Linked DNA regions of Homo sapiens: all the other regions are linked to region 2. Evidence: fine-mapped expression QTL. A gene starts in region 2. Each other region holds a variant in brackets. All regions are shown on one strand. Distances are between the middles of the regions. Region 1 has its middle 20 kb from the start of VNN1. Region 2 holds the start of VNN1 (vanin 1). Region 3 overlaps VNN2 (vanin 2). Region 4 overlaps VNN2 (vanin 2). Region 5 overlaps TARID (TCF21 antisense RNA inducing promoter demethylation).

Evidence for each region. PIP is the estimated chance that this variant, and not a neighbour inherited with it, causes the effect.
Region 1: its variant is fine-mapped to the expression of VNN1 in whole blood (INTERVAL, PIP above 0.99).
Region 3: its variant is fine-mapped to the expression of VNN1 in whole blood (TOPMed, PIP above 0.99).
Region 4: its variant is fine-mapped to the expression of VNN1 in blood mononuclear cells (TOPMed, PIP above 0.99).
Region 5: its variant is fine-mapped to the expression of VNN1 in monocytes after R848 (Quach 2016, PIP 0.95).

What each region holds. Positions count from the first base shown.
Region 1 is chr6:132,732,007-132,736,129 of GRCh38, reverse strand. It overlaps the pseudogene VNN3P. Among named protein-coding and RNA genes, the nearest start is that of VNN1, 20 kb to the right of the region's middle. The variant C/G (reference allele first, on the strand shown) is at 1,657.
Region 2 is chr6:132,712,266-132,716,388 of GRCh38, reverse strand. It overlaps VNN1 (vanin 1), which reads left to right and starts at 2,334. Exons shown (of 7, transcript NM_004666.3): 1 at 2,334-2,563. The coding sequence starts at 2,354.
Region 3 is chr6:132,742,215-132,746,337 of GRCh38, reverse strand. It overlaps VNN2 (vanin 2), which reads left to right. Exons shown (of 7, transcript NM_004665.6): 7 at 1,847-2,468. The coding sequence ends at 2,038. Among named protein-coding and RNA genes, the nearest start is that of VNN2, 14 kb to the left of the region's middle. The variant A/G (reference allele first, on the strand shown) is at 2,428.
Region 4 is chr6:132,750,508-132,754,630 of GRCh38, reverse strand. VNN2 (vanin 2) reads left to right here. Exons shown (of 7, transcript NM_004665.6): 4 at 1,882-2,170; 5 at 3,113-3,486. Among named protein-coding and RNA genes, the nearest start is that of VNN2, 5.3 kb to the left of the region's middle. The variant C/T (reference allele first, on the strand shown) is at 2,345.
Region 5 is chr6:133,558,449-133,562,571 of GRCh38, reverse strand. All of the region lies in intron 5 of TARID (TCF21 antisense RNA inducing promoter demethylation), which reads left to right. Among named protein-coding and RNA genes, the nearest start is that of EYA4-AS2, 100 kb to the right of the region's middle. The variant A/G (reference allele first, on the strand shown) is at 1,627.

The DNA of each region.
Region 1 (4,123 bases), 20 kb before region 2:
ATGTCCTTATTTCCTGAAATGGTATCAGGGCATAAGGACATATGGAAACACTGTGGGGTATCTGGGAGCAGAAATATTTGGATAATGGAAAAGTTTATTGAAACCAAGGGACTTTGAATTATAGAAACAAACCAAACCCAAAATAGACACAAATCTCCATAACTTACAATTTTCCTTAGATCTTAGAAAGAATCTCAAGAGGGAGAAGCAGTGTTAATTGTTCTAGAATCAGAGATTTAAACCTTAAAAAAAATTCTACATTTTAAATTAACTGATATTCAAACAAGGAGATTCAATCCAAAATTGGGCGAGGGAAGTGAATTTAACTAATCAAAAAACATTTACAGAGCTTAGCACAGTATAAAATTCTATAGAAGCAGCAGAGAATTATAATGTGACCCTGCCCTTAAGGGACTTATAAGGATGATATGTTTAAAAAATAAAAGAATTAAAGGAGAACTTAACACTTTTTGAATTATTGATTAGTCTTCATATGGAAGCGGGTTTAAACTGTAGAAGACAGGTAAAGTAAATTGCATCTCAATAACAAGAATGTTCTTAAAATTGGCAATGTTCAAAGGTGGAATAGACTGGCCCATCAGGTAGTAGATTCCGTCATTCAACATTCATTCATATATTGAGCTTTCACCATCTGTCACACATGTGCTGGGGTGATGAGGTTCAACAGTGAGCAGGACACTTCCCTTACCCTCCAGGGGCCACATCCCAGGATACATCATCTCTGTCTAGATGTTTATTGGACATGGATGTTCTGAAAGAAAACAGCAAGTTTCTTTTTAATCTCTTTAAGAAGACAAAACATACATATATAATATTAAGTATTGGTATAATATTTAAATTAAAGGTCAAGACAACAGCAAGGAGTGAGAGACATTCAGCAGCACAGAAAAAAATGCTATAGGAGTTCAGAAATATCACTTAGGACTGGAGTGGATTTGGGAGGACTCTAGGGGGAGCTGGAACTTAGACGGATGGAGAACAAGGGCTTTTCAAATAGAAATGGCCATACAAATATGTAAGTAGAGTGCTCAACAAATTGTTGCTATGATGACTACCTTCCAATATTGGCCCTATTAATAGAAATGTTGGCTTACCAGGAAAATTTTTTTTTATTAGAAAAGACTTCAACTGCCAGTGTGTTTTGGACTGGGGTGAATTCATCTGGTTGGCTCAATCTTTTAGTGTTGACTTGACTCTGAACAATGTCAACAACTGCACTGTACACTTGAATCAATCCAATTACGTCCTGGCTGTCAGTTTTCTTGCACAACATCCTTTCTCAATGCTGTGTTGTGTAATATATGTGCAAGAAAATATAAACAGCTGATTGCCAGGAGGGATTTAATGTAAAGTTTTTCCAGTGAAACAAAACGTAAGAATCTGAGTTTGTTTTTCAAAGATCACTAAATTTTAGTTATGATTATATCACATTTTCCAAAATGTGTGGCAGTTTTTGCCCTCCTTGCTCTGAGTGTTGGTGCACTGGACACTTTTATTGCTGCAGTATATGAGCATGCGGTGATATTACCAAACAGAACAGAAACACCTGTTTCAAAAGAAGAAGCTTTGCTCCTGATGAACAAGAACATAGATGTTTTGGAGAAAGCAGTTAAGCTGGCAGCGAAGCAGGTATTA[C/G]CCTTTTATACTTGTAAAGGAGACTTGCAGTTTGGTCAAAGAGTATTTGGAATTCATGACAAACTTTTTTGCCCCACTTGTTTCGAGCAGGGTGCACATATCATTGTGACCCCAGAAGATGGAATCTATGGTTGGATCTTCACCAGGGAGAGCATTTACCCCTATCTAGAGGATATACCAGACCCTGGAGTGAACTGGATTCCATGTAGAGACCCCTGGAGGTAATATCATATCATTAATTTCTAAACAAAAAGTTGTGATTTGGTAAAACACCAACAGTAAACTCACTGAATTTGACTGGTAATTGTGTTGATAAATAGTCAATCTGTGGCATAGGATGTAGATGCTTTTTTTTCCCTGTAATTTCAACTTTTAGCTTAGATTGAGGGAGTACATGTGCAGGTTTGTTACATGGGCAAATTGCATGACGCTGAGGATTGGGGTACAATGATTGCACCACCCAGCATAGTATACAACAGGAAGGTTTTCAGCCCTTGCCTTCCTCTCTCTCTCTCCCCTCTATTAGTTCCCAGTGTCTATTGCTGTCATCTTTATGGCCATGAGTTCCCAATGCTTAGCTCCCACTTATAAGTGAGAACATGCAGTATTTGGTTTTCTGTTCCTGTGTTAACTTGCTGAGGATAATGTCCTTTGGTGCTGCAAAAGACATGATTTTGTTCCTTCTTGTGGGCACCTAGGTTAATTCCATATCTTTGCTGTTGTGAAAAGTGCTGCGATGAACATACAAGTGCACGAGTCTTTTTGGTAGAATGATTTCCTTTCCTTTGGGTATATACCTAGTAATGGGATTGTGAGTCGAATGGTTGCTGTGTTTTAAGTTCTCTGAGAAATCTCCAAACTGCTTTCCACAATGGCTGAACTAATTTACATTTCCACCAATAGTGTGTAAGTGTTCCCCTTTCTCCATAGCATCTTTTATTATTTGACTTTTTGTTAACAGTCATTCTGACTGGTGTGAGATGATATCTCATTGTGGTTTTGCTTGGCATTTCTCTGATGATAAGTGATGTTGAGTGTTTGTTCACGTGTTTTTTGGCCACTTGTATGTCCTCTTTTGAGAAGTGTCTGTTCATGTCTTTTGCCCACTTTTCAATGGGGTTATTTGTTTTGTTTTTGCTTATTGATTTAAGTTCCTTATGGATTCTGGATAGTAGACCTTTGTTAGATGCCTAGTTTGCAAATATTTTCTCCCATTCTGTAGGTTGTCTATTTACTCTGTTGATAGTTGCTTTTGCTGTACAGAGCTCTTTAGTTAAATTAGGTCCTACATGTCAAGTTTTGTTTTTGTTGCAATTGCTTTTGAGGACTTAGTCATAAATTATTTTCCAAGGTTCATGTCCAGAATGGTGTTTCTTAGATTTTCTTCTAGGATTCTTATAGTTTGAGGTCATACATTTAAATCTTTAATACATCTTGAGTTAATTTTTGTACATGGTGAAAGATAGGGGTCCAGTTTCAATCTTCTGCATATGGCTAGCCAGATATTCCAGCACCTTTTGTTGAATAAGGAGTCCTTTCCCCATACTTATTTTTGTGAACTTTGTTTGAGCTACAGATGGCTGTAGGTGTGCGGCTTTGTTTCTAGGCTCTCTATTCTGTTCTATTGGTCTATGTGTCTGTTTTTCTAACAGTACCATGTTGTTTTGATTACTGTAGCCTTGGGTAATGTGATGCCTCAGGCTTTGTTCTTTTTGTTTAGGATTGGTTTGGCGATTCAGGCTCTTTTTTGGTTCCATATGAATTTTAGAAATTTTGTTTATAAATCTGTGAAAAAATGACATTGGTAGTATGTTAGAAATAGTGTTGAGGCTGGGTGCTGTGGGTCATGCCTATAATCCCAGCACTTTGGGAGGCCAAGGCAGGTGGATTACTTGAGATTAGGAGTTTGAGACCAGCCTGGCCAACGTGGTAAAACCCCATCTCTACTAAAATACAAAAATTAGCTGGGTGTGGTGGTGTGTGCCTGTAATCCCAGCTACTCGGGAGGCTAAGGCATGAGAATTGCTTGAACGATAGAGTGAGACTCTGTCTCAAAAAAAAAAAAAAAAAAAAAAGAAGAAAAGAAATAGTGTTGAATCTGCAGATACTGCTTATGTTTCATAGTGTATATCATCTGGCATATCTCCTGTTTGGTAAATGACTTGAGATACTGATGACTAGTTGGTTATTTGTTGCAATTGTCTTTCAACAATAGTAGGTGTGACCAGGCGTGGTGGCTCACACTTGTAATCCCATCACTGTGGGAAGCCAAAGCAGGAGGACTGCTTGAAGCCAGAAGTTTGAGACCAGCCTGCGCAGCAAAGCCAGACCCTATTTCGGCAAATAAAAAATTTAGCCAGGTGTGGTGGCTCACACCTATAATCCCAGCTACTCGAGAGGCTGAAGCAGGAGGATCACTGGGGCCCAGGAGTTTGAGGCTGCAGTGAGCTATGATTGCACCACTGCA
Region 2 (4,123 bases):
TCTGAGGACCGCAGTTTATCCTGTGATCTCAATTCTCTGATGCATCCTAGAAAAGTTGTCGATTTTCATTTGTTTAGCTTTTTTCTTGGTGTGAGCATGGGAAAAATGACTGCCAAGCTCTTTATGAGTTGGACTAGAAACTCCACGGGAGGTTTAATATTTTTAATCTAAGAAGGTCAAGAAGTAATTTTTTAACCTCTTGCCAACTCATCTCAGTTTTAACTTTTATTTCAGTGCTTCCTTTTACAAATTGTTACATAATAATGACATCTTTTTGTGAAATATGTGGTATTCCCACCCACCTGGGCATGGAAAGGCCCTAAGAGGTCAGCAAGCAGTTAGAGAAGCTGGTGTTTACCGGAAACTCAGGAGAACCAGCCAACCACAACCCCTGGGTTACCTTGGCAATTGCAGAATAAATGCATTATAGTTACTAAAGTAAAAAATTAGATATGCCTGTTTGCAGATTGAACTATAAAAATACCATTCAAAGACAAATAGATCTAAAAATAAAATGGAAAAACATAAACACTAATTCTGTAAATATTATACTTAATGCACAACTGAAACAAAATTTGCCAGCTTACTCAATATCAAAATCTATGAACAGTTTTTCTATTTTATATAATTTCCCTCTCCTCTCTCTGGATCTCGCTCCCCAGCTCATTTTTTCTTTTTTTTGCTCTGATTCTTTATACACCTCTGTTGCCTCTGTGATAAGCAGCTTCAAAGATGGTTCCTAATGCTTTATTGGATAGAATACAACAAAAGCGATGAGGTGTTGCTTCCCCAATTACATTACGAAGCATCCGTGGCTTCCATCTCCAGTGGGTTCACTTGCTGTCTGGCTCTAAGGGAATCCAGATACCATAATGCGGGCTGCCCTATGGTGAGGTTTGCATCACTAGGAACTCATGTCTCTGGGCAACAACCAATGAGGTCTTGATCCCTGCCGTCAGCCACATGAGGGAGCTTGGAGCTCGGAAGTGAATCCTCCTGGAGTCAAGCCTTGATATAGCTAGCCCTGGCAGCTGCTTGACTGCAGCCTTGTGAAAGAGACCTTGGGCCAGAGGCACCAGCTAAACTGCCCCTGGATTCCTGACCCAGAGAAAGTGGGAGATGATGTATTTTTGCTTTTTGAAGCTGCTGAATTTGGGGATAATTTGTTATATAGCAATAGAAAATGAGTAACTCTTTTGTATTCCTCTTTGTCCTGGCTTCCCCATTTTGAGGAAAATAAAGTAAATCAAAGTGTAGAGCTGAAATATTCACATGAAAATAATAATAAAGTTTTAAAATTATTTGAATGTCTTGTGTTGACATTCCAAAATATATGAATTCCAAAAATTTATATGTTGAAGTCCTAACTGTCAGTATCTTAGAATGTAACTTTTTTGGAAAAGGGGTCATTTCAGATCTAATTAGTTAAGATGAAGTTATACTGGAGTACAGTGGGCACTAAATCGAATTGGTCCTATGATTGAGTCTCAGTCTTTCAGTGAGCCTGTACCCCTGGGTTTATGACCTTCAGTTGGCTTTTTTCTTCTGCCCTTATTTGGCATAAAAACAAAGCAGGTGGATCACCTGAGGTCAGCAATTTGAGACCAGCCTGCCCAACACGGCGAAACCCTATCTCTACTAAAAATACAAAAAATTAGCCTGGCGTGGTGGCGGGCGCCTGTAATCCCAGCTACTTGGGAGGCTGAGGCAGGAGAATCACATGAACCCGAGAGGCGGAGGTTGCAGTGAGCCGAGATTTCGCCACTGCACTCTAGCCTGGGTGACAAGAGTGAAACTCCATCTCAAACAACAACAACAATAAACAAACAACAACGATGACAAAAAAAGCTAGAGCTGGGATTTTCCCTTTCCCTGTGTTAAAGATTAGAGTGGTGTCCTCACAAAAAGGGAAAACTTGGATACAGGCACACACATGGGGAGAATAGCATATGAAGAGACACAGGGAGAAGGCAGCCATCTATGGGTCAAGGAGAGAGGCCTGGAACACATCTTTCCTTCACCGCCCTCAGGAGGAACCAACTCTGCTGACACCTTCATCTGGGACTCCCACCCTCCAGAACTGCAAAGCAATAAATTTTTTATTTTTTACACCACCCAGTTTATTGTATTTTGTTAGGCAGCCCTAGCGAACTAATGTACATAGAGTTCTTGAGTTAATCTTCACAAATTACTGCAATAAGGTAGGGTCTTTTGTTATGTAACAATGCTATGAAATCATAGCGTTTTCTTAATTAACTTCCGTAGTTTAAGGTACTAAGTTCTGGACACCACGTGTCTTCTTTCTATAAATACCAGGACATGCTCTGTTTTTCAGCACTCATTGGACTTCAGCATGACTACTCAGTTGCCAGCTTACGTGGCAATTTTGCTTTTCTATGTCTCAAGAGCCAGCTGCCAGGACACTTTCACTGCAGCTGTTTATGAGCATGCAGCGATATTGCCCAATGCCACCCTAACACCAGTGTCTCGTGAGGAGGCTTTGGCATTAATGAATCGGAATCTGGACATTTTGGAAGGAGCGATCACATCAGCAGCAGATCAGGTACCATCTCTACCATCTCTCCAGTGTACTGGATTCTATGAGAAAGGAGGGGGTCCTAGGAGACAGGGCCACTGTCAGGGTCAGTTACACTTTTAGATGATATATGTATCAGAGTAGCCAAGAACCTTTATTTTACAGTTAGAATTCTACTTTCCTCTCAAAATTAGAGCAAGGACTTCCCTAAAAGTAAGAACAAAGTTAAGAAAAGAACAATTTGCTCATTATCAAGAAGCAGCAGACCTTTGAGGAACTGGCCATAAATTCAACATCTTTGTTCCCCTTTTCTGGTACAGATGGAGGATGGAGGATAAATGGGTCAGGGACTAGGTGCTATTTTCAGAGTATTAGTGGCCTTCATGTACTCATGTGCTATTAAGGCTTTGCAGGTTTTCGAATAAATTTATAATCTGAAAACAAATTTAAGTTTTCAATTCCTTGCCAGCATGCATTATATACTTCACACTTCATTCTAATTACAAGATAAAAGTATATGTAATGCATTGTGAGTCCTTAAGTTTAGTGAAGGTTTCAGTTTGAAGTTAATCATACAGTATAAATTGTGGTTTACACAAATATTATTTTAAAAGCTATTGATCGATTAGGTGTAGACCAGGAATACATGAAGTGTGATAAAAGTCATGGATAAATGTGTATTACATATATCTATAAATATATATTCTTTTGTGTTGTTGAGTTAAGGTCTCACTCTGTCACCCAGGATGGAGTATAGTGGTGTGATCACGTCTCACTGCAGCCTTGACTTCCCGGGCTCAGGTGATTCTCCCACTACAGTCTCCAGAGTAGCTGGGACCACAGATGCATGCCACCGTGCCCAGCTAAGTTTTGTATTTTTTGTAGAGATGGGATTTTGCCATGTTGCCCACGCTGTACTTGAACTCCTGACCTCAGGTGATCCACCTGCCTTGGGCTCCCAAAGTGCTGGGATTACAGGCATGAGCTACCGTGACTGCCCTATATTCTTATATATACTAATATTTAAAAGGTTATCAGGAGTTCTGATGTTCTTTTTCATCCTTAGTCCAACTATTTCCTTGAAGGTCACAGAGCTTTTTAAGGTGACTCTCTAATTGGAAGGTGCCCAGGTTAGCTCAGGCAGTACTTGTAGGCATGGGACAGTTCAAGTAACCAGTTTGTGGCTCCTCTTTTTCTGAGAAGCAGGAATCATGTTTGCAGGGGAAAGCTAGGGCAGAGGAGGAAATAAACAGAATATTTAAGTTATTAATCAGTCTTGACACAGGCACAGTCATCAGCGAAAGTTCAAGGAGAGGCTTGGTTCCAGGATAAGCTAGGTTTATAGTTAACGACTGCCATAGGAAACAACAATGGCAGGATTAGAAAATTAAAATGCTTGACTAAGCCAGGTGCGGTGGCTCATGTCTGTAATTCCAACACTTTGGGAGGCTGAAGCAGGCGGATCACCTGAGGTTGGGAGTTCAAGACCATCCTGACCAATATGGAGAAACCCCATCTCTACTAAAAATACAAAAATTAGCCAGGCGTGGTGGCAGATGCCTGTGATCCTAGCTACTTATGAGGCTG
Region 3 (4,123 bases), 30 kb before region 2:
CGTTATCTTAGAGGATCACTATTGCAGAGATTTCAACACACTTGTTGTGTATCCTCAACCCCCACCACCACTTTAGTTTTATGTTAAAAGGGTGGTGTTACTCACCATGCCCACAAATGTGGAAACATCTTGCTTTAGCACCTTAGGCAACTCTGGTGTATTGTCAGAAGCACTGGCAGAGTCTGTTCTCTGTAACTAACTAGTTAGATAACCTTGGGAAAGTCACTTAACCTCTGAATTTCCTACTCATAGAAGAGAATATTTTCCTCACTGATTTGGTGAGGATCAAATATGATAATGCATGTGAAGACACTTTGTGAATGGTGAAGTACAATCATTATCTTCTAGGATATTTAGTCATTTTCTCCTCCCAGTTGTAAAGCATCTGTTTTCCTAATTTTCAATTTCTTCTCCACTCCAACTAATTTCCCAATTTTCAATTTCTTCTCCATTCCAACTCCATTTCCACAACTAATGGGTTCATTTTCTTTTATTCTTGTTCTGTTTATTGACTGTCTATGCATGTTTCCTTCTGTTCTTGTTCAATTGCTTTGTACATATTCCTCTCTTATGAAAACTCCACTGTGGCTTCAGGCTAGATCTAGTCATTAATGCCTTTCACAGTCTGATCTCCACCTTCCTCTGATCATATTCCTTCTTCTCTTCTTCACTAATCTTCAGCGCTAGCCAGTGGTGTGATGTAACTTTAAACAATTCCTTCTCTGAGGTAGAAAACAAAAAGCCCTGACTTATGGAATTTGCCAGTTTTCATTGTGTCAATATTCCCGCCATGATCCCACCAGCTTCAAGAATGGATCTGTTGGCAGAGTTTGATAGCTCACGCCTGTAATCCCAGCACTTTGGGAGGCTGAGTTGGGAGGACCATTTGAGGCCAGGAGTTCGAGAACAGCCTGGGCAACATGGTGAAGCCCTGTCTCTACTAAAAATACAAAAATTAGCTGGGCTTGGTGGCACGCCCCTGTAATCCCAGCTACTGGGGAGCTTGAGGCAGGAGAATCACTTGAACCCAGCAGGCGGAGGTTGCAGTGAGCCAAGATCATGCCACTGCACTCCAGCCTGGGTGACAGAGCGAGACTCCATCTCAAAAAAGGGGGAAAAAAAGAATGGCTGTGTTTAACAGCCAGCTGTCCAATTTCCTGGAAATTTAACAATCTGTTCTCATGAGCCTGTGCACCACTAGCTCCAGCACACCACTGGTTTTAACCAATCTAGAATGAGAACTCACATTGCCTTGATCTGTCACACACACTTCTGTCTCAGAATGAGCCTTTGCTGGTTCAATGTCCACTTCCCACAATGTCTTCCACCATACAGCCCTTGAAAGAAATTCCTAACAGCTTGAGTTTTTGGCAGCTTGTGTCCCACTCCGTGAAACAGACCAGTTCAGTTTTTTTTTTCTCAGACCTCCTAGCACTTACCTGTTCTCTTCTCTGATACACTGATAAACTGATTTCTCTCTTTATGTTTAGAATCCGCTCCATTTCACCATTAGCTCTTTAGCTTCTTGAGGGAAGGATGTGATGTATAACTCTCTGGTTCCTGATTGTCTTGCACATAATCGAACTCAATGAATTGCTGCTGCTGATTTTGACTTTCCATTAATGGTTACATTTGATTGTTGAAACTAAAATCTTGGGCCCTCTTGAATTGCTCTAGTCTTCATTATGTAGTAAATGGCTGTCCCCTGCCTGGCCTACTTGCTGCATCCTCCTAAATCAGAAATGATTTGACTATACATTATATCTAGGATGGTTTCAAAATGATTAATTTGCTTTTAACTTCTATGTTAAGAAAGCTGACTGTACTTTTCCCACCTTTTCTTTAGGTGCTGAAAGATGGGCGTTTGGTAAACAAGAATGGATCATCTGGGCCTATACTAACAGTGTCACTCTTTGGGAGGTGGTACACAAAGGACTCACTTTACAGCTCATGTGGGACCAGCAATTCAGCAATAACTTACCTGCTAATATTCATATTATTAATGATCATAGCTTTGCAAAATATTGTAATGTTATAGGGCGTCTCTTTATCACTCAGCTTCTGCATCATATGCTTGGCTGAATGTGTTTATCGGCTTCCCAAGTTTACTAAGAAACTTTGAAGGGCTATTTCAGTAGTATAGACCAGTGAGTCCTAAATATTTTTTCTCATCAATAATTATTTTTTAAGTATTATGATAATGTTGTCCATTTTTTTGGCTACTCTGAAATGTTGCAGTGTGGAACAATGGAAAGAGCCTGGGTGTTTGGGTCAGATAAATGAAGATCAAACTCCAGCTCCAGCCTCATTTGCTTGAGACTTTGTGTGTATGGGGGACTTGTATGTATGGGAGTGAGGAGTTTCAGGGCCATTGCAAACATAGCTGTGCCCTTGAAGAGAATAGTAATGATGGGAATTTAGAGGTTT[A/G]TGACTGAATTCCCTTTGACATTAAAGACTATTTGAATTCACCTAGTTTTCTGTGCTAATGTTTATCAGGAGATTTACTTTCCAATCAAAAGGCAATGTCGACATTTATTTCTACAGTGAACGTAGTTTTGAGTGCTAGAAGAATTGATGGCTATTCCAAGTTCATATCAAAGGAGACCTGACCCAGGGCACTCATAGCCCCAGCTGTCCCACCTTAAGGCTATGGCGTAATTTAACAGGCAGAAATCTCATAACACAAAGACCATGACAGTTAAAAGTTACACTATTTTCAGCATTTGGTTGACTTTTTACAAAATACACATATTCCATGCTACTTGAAGTAAACTAGTATATTTGTTATTGATCATTTAATTCAGATACTCTTAAAATTAAAGAACTGATTTTGAATTTTCAGATTTATTTTCTGATTTTTATCTCCCAAAGTATTTTTAAATTCAATACTTTTACATAAAAAAACACAATTGAAGCATTTATCTTTTGTTTTTACATATTGTCATAAACCTACTTATGGATTTGATTTTAAAATTCTACTAAAATACACTAGAAAAGTAAGATTCCTTTTATAATCTCGTGGTTAGTATTAAGAGAAGAAATATGGAAGTTAAGCCACACTTTGTATTTAATTTTGAGAAGAGCATACATATTCCCTATGTTCAGCATTGGGACATCAAAGATGGCAATTTTAAAGCTGTAATGAACGTGCATTTGTGTATATAGTCCAAATCATATAATCATCAAAGTTTTATGCTCTTTTTTCTTTTTCTTTTTCTTTTTTTTTTTTTGAGACAGAGTCTCACTCTGTCACCCAAGCTGGAGTGCAATGGTGGGAGTTCAGCTCATTGCAACCTCCGCCTCCTGGGTTCAAGTGCTTCTCCTGCCTCAACCTCCCAAGTAGCTGGAATTACAGGCACCCACCACCATGCCCGGCTAATTTTTGTATTTTTAGTAGAGATGGAGTTTCGCCATGTTGGCCAGGCTGGTCTCGAACTCCTGACCAGGTGATCCACCCACTTTGGCCTCCCGATGTGCTGGGATTACAGGCATGAGCCACCATGCCTGGCTTCTTTTTCCTTTTCATAAAGTATGGGACATTTAAAATTTGCCAAGTTTTGCTTGAGGAAGTTAGATGTTGTGCAGTGGTTTTGCAGCATGTATTTTGGCTCTTGGGCAATGACGTTTCATTTGCAGAAGTTTAGATGTTGATTGAAAATCAACAGCTGACGTTAAACAAACTGGTTTGAGTAAGATACAAGCAAGGAGCTCCTTTCACAGAAAGGGACAGTTCTGATTCAAGCTTGGAGCTCTCAGCTGTACCTCAGTTTGTTAAAAATAAAAACAAAAAACGAAAGCACCAAGTGCCAAGGAAATTAAAGAGCACTTAATGCTCTACTGTAAAATTGCCTGCACCACATTTTAACCCATCTCCACCGTGGTTTCTCACATACATTTTATTTTATCAAACAACCCAAGCATAGTTTCATTTGGCCTTTATATTTCTTTGATAACTATCTTTCATCCCATTTTATTTTATTTTTACTTATTTATTTATTTATTTTTTGAGATAGAGTCTCGCTCTGTTGCCCAGGCCGGAGTGCAGTGGTGCGATCTCGGCTCACTTCAAGCTCCGCCTCCCAGGTTCACGCCATTCTCCTGCCTCAGCCTCCTGAGTAGCTGG
Region 4 (4,123 bases), 38 kb before region 2:
GATATGTGTGATGTACAGGCAGTATGAATGTCCCTTCTCCACACCCAGATATTTTGTAAGCATCTTAAACTGTAGCCTCAGAATCTTTGGAGTGGAGAAATTATCTCCTGGCAGTCTCAGTTAAAATATAAATATTAATTAAGAGGAGGGATGTTAAACCAATGGTTTTCAAATGATTTCGATCATGGACCCCTATTGGAAAAAATCGTTAACATAAGTCCTCAATATATGTATTTTTGTGTGTGTATTTATAAAGTGCAACAATTTCAAAATGCTTTCTTCATAATTTTGTGGATTTTGACAGCTTCTTTTCATATATATCACTGCATTTCACTTTCTTCTTAAAATGTGTCTCATAGTAAAAATAGAAAGGTCAGTGCTTCCATTTTCTTGCTTGGGAGATTGTTTGCATTATTTGTATTATCTTTCAATGCAGTTTATTTGCAGTAATCATTTGAAGCTATTCTGCCATTCTGTAAATATGCAGGATGGCACAGTGCACTGAATGTGGACAAACTAGCAAGGAACCTGCAGTCACCCTGTCTAAGTTGAAAGGCTCTCACTCTTCCCTGAGGGTACCTCAGGGACCGTTTGTAACCCATGACCTCTGACATATGTGAACCTAATGAGAATACCTTTGTCGATCAATTCCTTTTTTTTTTTTTTTTTTTTTTTTTTTAGGCAGAGTCTGGCTCTGTCATCCCGGCTGGAGTGCAATGGCACGATCTCAGCTCACTGCAACCTCTGACTCCCAGGTTCAACCCATTCTCCTGCCTCAGCCTCCTGAGTAGCTGGGATTACAGGTGCATACCACCACACCCGGCTAATTTTTGGATTTTTTAGTAGAGATGGGGTTTCTCCATGTTGGCCAGGCTGGTCTTGAGCTCCTGGCCTCAAGTTATCTGCCTGCCTTGGCCTCCCAAAGTGCTTGGATTACAGGCATGAGCCACCTTGCCTGGCCTGTCAATTCTTAAAATAGTAGTAAAGCCCAATTTCTTTTCTATTTTTTAGATATTTTTTCTACACTGCAGACCATTTTATTAACTGTTGATTCCATTTATTATATTAGACTAAGTTTTTTTTTAGTTTACCTAGAAGGAATCGGGAAATTAAATACATTTCTATGGTAATTTTGAAAGGTGGGCAAGAGTCACTGAGATTACTTTGGATGGGACACTAAAGAGAGAGATGACATCTCTCACCTGACTTACAGGTATTTATTATGCATCTATTAATATTACGTTTCTAGGCACCAAGGATTCAAAGAAGAATAATGCATGTTTTTTAACTTTTAAGAAGCTTATAGGGCCAGGTGCTGTGGTTCATTCCTGTAATCCCAGCACTTTGGGAGGCCCAGGTGGGTGGATCATGAGGTCAGGAGATTGAGATCATCCTGGCTGACACGGTGAAACCCCGACTCTACTAAAAATACGAAAAAATTAGCCGGGCATAGTGGCACGTGCCTGTAATCCCAGCTACTCGCTTGAACTCAGGAGGTGGAGATTGCAGTGAGCCGAAATCATGCCACTGCACTCCAGCCTGGGTGATAGAGCGAGGCTCCGTCTCAGAAAAATAAAATTAAATTAAATTTAAAAAAAGCTTACGGACTTTGGGGTTTATGGGGGGGTATTTGGCTCTTAACTGAGAGAGAGGGAAAGAGAGAGAAGGGAGAGAGAGGAGATGAGAGATGCTATGGACGTATGTTACATATTCCTCCACATTTTCCTTAGAAATTTACTTCCAATTGCCAGATTTATCCGCTTCCTAGGAGATTCCCTGCAGTTGACCATAGCCAAATCTGTTACCAACTTAGAGGGTTTTTATGAGTCATTTCTTCAACAAATAAGGTTTTACTGGTTTTCTCCTATCCATTTGTTGTAGTACCACCTGTACTCTGAGCCTCAGTTTAATGTCCCTGAAAAGCCGGAGTTGGTGACTTTCAACACCGCATTTGGAAGGTTTGGCATTTTCACGTGCTTTGATATATTCTTCTATGATCCTGGTGTTACCCTGGTGAAAGATTTCCATGTGGACACCATACTGTTTCCCACAGCTTGGATGAACGTTTTGCCCCTTTTGACAGCTATTGAATTCCATTCAGCTTGGGCAATGGGAATGGGAGTTAATCTTCTTGTGGCCAACACACATCATGTCAGCCTAAATATGACAGGTAATTCATGACCAGGTTAGGTTTCATCTTATATTTTTAAGTGCAGAGAAATGAATGCCTCAGTTATGACTTGTATTAATTTTTTGCTTATTGGAAATTCTTACTGTGTTTGTCATAGTTTCACAATAGAAAAAAAAAGCTAGCACTTGATTATAAGCTATGGTTATACTAAGA[C/T]CTTTATGTGTATTATTCATTTAATTATTACAATAATTATATGAGATAGATAGTGTCATCCCAATTTTGCAGATGAGAAAATTGACATACAGAGAGTGCAAGTAATTTGCCAAATGCTACCCAGCTACTACTTTCCTCAGTGGCCATGGAAGCCTCTATATCTTGCCCTTTGTCTCCTCCTATGGCTGCATGGCATATCCTCGTGACATGGCTGCTGTCTTCCTCTAGAGCAATTAATGAGAGGGGACAAGAGAGAAAAGGAAAGAAGCCACATTGCTATTTATGACTAGTTACCCACCATCACTTCTGCCATGTTCTATTCATTGGAAGTGAGTCACTAAGTCCAGCCCCTCTTCAAGGGGAAAGGAATTAGATCCTCCCACCAGAAAGAAGAATTTTAAGGAATTTTTGGATATATTTGAAAACCACCACAATGAGGAATAGGGGAGAATTTTTATTCCCTTTCCCCACCTTTCAGGAACTCCTGACTACAAAGATTTTTGTAGTTGGTTTAATTTTCCATAATGCTAATAAATAATGCTATTATATTTAAGGTTTAATTGAAATGAGACCAAGGAATGTTTATTTTAATCTCTTCCATTAGAGAATAGAAGTAGTTAGGTGTTCAGTGCAATTAGAAGCATGTATCCTCTCTCATCGTGACTAATATGGTGGCGTGATCACATGCCCAATTCTGATGGGGAAATTGGCAGTTTTGGTTTTTTTGTGTGTGGTGTTGTTTTTAGAAGACTTGTCTTTCATTCACAGGAAGTGGTATTTATGCACCAAATGGTCCCAAAGTGTATCATTATGACATGAAGACAGAGTTGGGAAAACTTCTCCTTTCAGAGGTGGATTCACATCCCCTATCCTCGCTTGCCTACCCAACAGCTGTTAATTGGAATGCCTACGCCACCACCATCAAACCATTTCCAGTACAGAAAAACACTTTCAGGGGATTTATTTCCAGGGATGGGTTCAACTTCACAGAACTTTTTGAAAATGCAGGAAACCTTACAGTCTGTCAAAAGGAGCTTTGCTGTCATTTAAGCTACAGAATGTTACAAAAAGAAGAGAATGAAGTATACGTTCTAGGAGCTTTTACAGGATTACATGGCCGAAGGAGAAGAGAGTACTGGCAGGTAATTTCAGTTCAAATGAAAGGGCATTCAAGTGAAAGGTAAATTCCAGGTTAACTTTTTATATTTGTTCCAGAAAACCAGGTGCTTTTCCTTGGCTTGACTCCATGCATTGATGGCAACACACACACACACAACACACACACACACACGTGCATTTATGCACGTACATACACTGGGATAAAATATTTACAATGGGAATTAAGTATAATCTTATTGCTTGCTTTAAGCATATTTAAAAAATTATTAACCTAACCATGATGAGTTTCGATTTGACTAATAAACCAGCCTACTGTGGAGAACATCAAGAAGACTTCCTTAAGTGGGTTTGCCAACATATCTAAATTATAAACAGTCTTATTTTCACTTGCAAAACTAACAGTAAATAGAGATACTACTTTTATTTTAGTTTCTCTTCTAATCAGATGTCCCGGGTTTTGTATAGCTTTCTTTTTCTTTTCTTTTCTTTTTCTTTTTTTTTTTTTTGAGACAATTTCACTCTGTCACCCTGGCTAGAGTGCAGTAGCATGATCTCGGCTCACTACAACCTCTGCCTCCCAGGTTCAAGCGATTCTCATGCCTCAGCCTCCTGAGTAGCTGGGACTACAGGCATGTGCCACCACACCTGGAAAAATATATA
Region 5 (4,123 bases), 850 kb before region 2:
AGAAAAGTATGTATTCACAATGGGTTAAATAGATTAATGGCCTAAAACCAAGACCTAAAACTATAAAACTCCTAGAAGAAAACATAAAAGAAAAGCTTAAGGACATTGTATTTGACAATGATTTCTTGAATATGACATCAAAAGCACAGGCAACAGAACTAAAAATAGACAAATGGGACTACATGAAACTTAAAACTTCTGCACAACAAAGAAAACACTCATCAGAGTGAAAAACAACCCTTGGAATGGAAGAATATATTTTCAAATCATATATCTGATAAGAGATTATTATTCAGAATATGTGAGGAAATTCCACAGTAACAACAACAAATATAACTCAGTTAAAATATGGGCAAAGAACTTAAATAGACATTTGTCTAAGAAGATATATAAATGGCCAACCAGTATAAGAAAAGATACTGACTGCAATGGTTAATACTGAGTGTCAACTTGATTAGATTGAAGGATGCAAAATATTGATCCTGGGTGTGTCTGTGAGGGTATTGTCAAAGGAGATTATCATTTGAGTCAGTGGGCTGGGAAAGGCAGACCCACCCTTCATCTGGGTGGCCACCATCTAATCAGCTGCCAAAGTGGCCAGAATATAAAGCAGGCAGAAAAACATGAAAAGACTAGACTGGTTTCGCTTCCAAGCCTACATCTTTCTCCCAAGCTAGATGCTTCCTGCCCTCGAAGATTGGACTCCATGTTCTTCAGTTTGGGACTCAGACTGACTCTCCTTGCTCCTCAGCTTGCAGATGGCCTGTTGTGGAACCTTGTGATTGTGTGAGTTAATTCTTAATAAACTCTCCTTTACATATACATATACATATACATATATGTATATATATACCTATATATATACACACACCTATATATATACACACACCTATATATATATATATATACACCTATATATATATATATATAAAAATTAGTTCTGTCCCTCTATAGAGGGACATATATATATACACACACACACACACACACACATATATATACACATATATATATAATTAGTTCTGTCCCTCTATAGAGCCCCGACGCCCTGACCAATATACATTTTGGTATCAGGAGTGTTTCTAGAGGAACAGAATATTAAGAATGGGGTTATTTCACTGGTTTTGGGGTTTCTGGAGTTGGCTGCTTAATATGATTAGACCAAAAAATGCTAAGGACTCTACTTCTAATAGTATGAAAACACTGATAGTGCTTGGCGGAAACTGTTTAGACAGTTATGCAAAGTAAATGCATTTAATACTCCTGATTCACCACTCATGAGAGGCAAGGAGTTTAATGACTCTATACATAATACCTTTGACCATATGTGGAGAACCAAGGAACATAATGAAGTTGATTGGTTGCTCCTAAGTTCAGTGGACAAAGTGATGAAAGAAAATGATGAACTCAGGGATTCTGCTTCAGAAGCAGATATTGAGCCTCAAATCTGCTAAGATTGCCCTAAGTGAGAGTCTTAGCTCCTGTAGAGAAAGAGCTGAAATTGGGGAAAAACAGACACAGACTCTTATGTGAGTGGCTGACCTGCAACAAAAGATGCATGCACAGCCTTGCCAGGTGTCCACTGTTAAAGTGAGGGCACTGATTGGAAAGGAATGGGACCCTGTA[A/G]CTTGGAATAGGGACGTGTGGGAGGACCCTGATGAAGCTGGGGACACTGAGTTTGTAAACTCTGATGAACCTTTTTTGCCAGAAGAAACAGCTTCCCTATCCCAAGTAGTGGCAACATCCCCTCCCTGATCCATGCTGCCATCAGCCTTTCCACCTTTGTCTAAGGAGATAAACCCTGTGCTGCTTGAGGCAAGAGTGATGGCCTCCCCTGAGGCAGTTGTCAGGCAAGATGATGTTGATTCTCCTCAGGAGCCACCACAAACACTCCTGTTTCCTTCTAGACTAAAGTCCTGGTGGGACCCTAGAGGTAAGGTTCAAAGTGTGACCCATGAGGAGGTGTGCTACACTCAAAAAGAATTGCTTGAGTTTTCTAATTTATATGAGCAGAAATTTGGAGAACAGGCATGGGAATGGATATTAAGGGTGTGGGATAAGGATAGAAGGAACATAAGAGTTGGATCAGGCTGAATTTATTGATTTGGGCCCAATAAGTATGGATTCTGCATTTAATGTTGCAGCTTGGGGAGTTACAGAAAGGTTCTAATAGTTTATTTGCTTTGTTAGCTGCAATATGGATTAAAAGATGGCCCACTGTGACCCAGCTGGAAATGCCTGATCTCCCTTGGTTTAATGTAGAGAAAGGGATCCAAACACTTAAGGAGATCGGGATGGTGGAGTGGATTAGTCACTTTAGACCTACTTATCCCAGCTGGGAGGGTGCAGAAGATATACTCTTGACCAATGCCCTGTGAAATAGATTTGTGAGGGCAGTGCCTGCATCTTTGAAGAGCTTTGTGGGTGCTCTGCTCTGTATGTCAGATCTAACTGTGAGAACCACAGTCACTCAACTACAAAATTTAAATACAATAGGAATAATTGGATCATGAGGTGGCAGGGGCCAACTGGTGGAACTCAACCATCAAAGGCAAGGTGGGCATAGCTACCATCATGGACTGCAGAGGCAAAGCAGCAATCAGAATAATCTGACTCGTGTAGAGCTCTGGCATTGACAAATTAATCATGGTGTTACTATAAGTGAAATTAATAGGAAGTTTACTGCATTCCTACTTAATTTATATAAGCAGAAAACTTCTAGGTCGCATAGACAAAAGACTAATTTGAATTATAAAAACAGGTCATCATGGCCCCTTAATCAATTTCCAGACTTGAGCCAGTTTACAGACCCAGAGCCCCTTGAATGAAGGGGAGGCTGAGTCCCCTTGAAGAAGGAACCCACTATATTACTGACAATTTATGCAGTGAATCTTTCTCCCATCCATTCCCAAGGAGACCTTTGGCTCTTTCCCAGGGCATCTGTGCACTGGGAAAAGGGAAATGATCAAACATTTTGGGGACTACTGGACACTGGCACTGAGCTAACATTGATTCCAGGGGACCCAAAACATCATTATGGTATCCAGTTAAAGTAGAGGCTTATAGAGGACAGGTAATTAATGGAGTTTTATCTCAAGTCTGACTTACAATGGCTTCAGTGGGTCCCTGGACTCATCCTGTGGTCATTTCCCTAGGGCCAGAATGCATGATTGGCATAGACATACTTAGCTGCTGGCAGAATCCCCACATTGGCTCTCTGACTGGTAGGGTGAGGGCTATTGTGGTGGGAAAGGCCAAATGGAAGCCATTAGAGCTGCCTGTACCTAGAAGAATAGTAAATCAAAAACAATATCACATCCCTGGAGGGACTGTGGAGATCAGTGCCACCATCAAGGACTTGAAAGACGCAGAGGTGGTGATTCCCACCACATCTCCATTCAACTCTCCCATTTGGCCTGTGCAGAAGACAGATCAATCTTGGAGAATGACAGTGGATTATTATAAGCTTAACCAAGTGGTGACTCCAGTTGCAGCTGCTGTACCAGATGTGGTTTCATTGCTTGAGCAAATTAACACATCTCCTGTTACCTGGTATGCAGCCATTGATTTGGCAAATGGCATTTTCTCCATTTCTGACCATAAGGCCCACCAGAAGCAATTTGCCTTCAGCTGGCAAGGCCAGCAATATACTGTTGGGAACAGGCCCCCCAAAATCTGGCCATGAACTGGCCCCAAAACTGGCCATAAACAAAATCTCTGCAGCACTGTGACATGATGGCCATAATGCCCATGCTGGAATGTTGTGGGTTTACTGGAATGAGGGCAAGGAACACCTGGCCCGCCCAGGGAGGAAAACCGCTTAAAGGCATTCTTAAACCACAAACAACAGCATGAGTGATCTGTGCCTTAAGGACATGCTCCTGCTGCAGATAACTAGCCCAACCCATCCCTCTATTTCGGCCAATCCCTTTGTTTCCCATAAGGGATACTTTTAGTTAATCTAATATCTGTAGAAACAATGCTAATGACTGGCTTGCTGTTAATAAATACGTGAGTAAATCTCTGTTCGGGGCTCTCAGCTTTGAAGGCTGTGAGACCCCTGATTTCCCACCTCACACCTCTATATTTCTGTGTGTGGGTCTTTAATTCCTCTAGCGCCGCT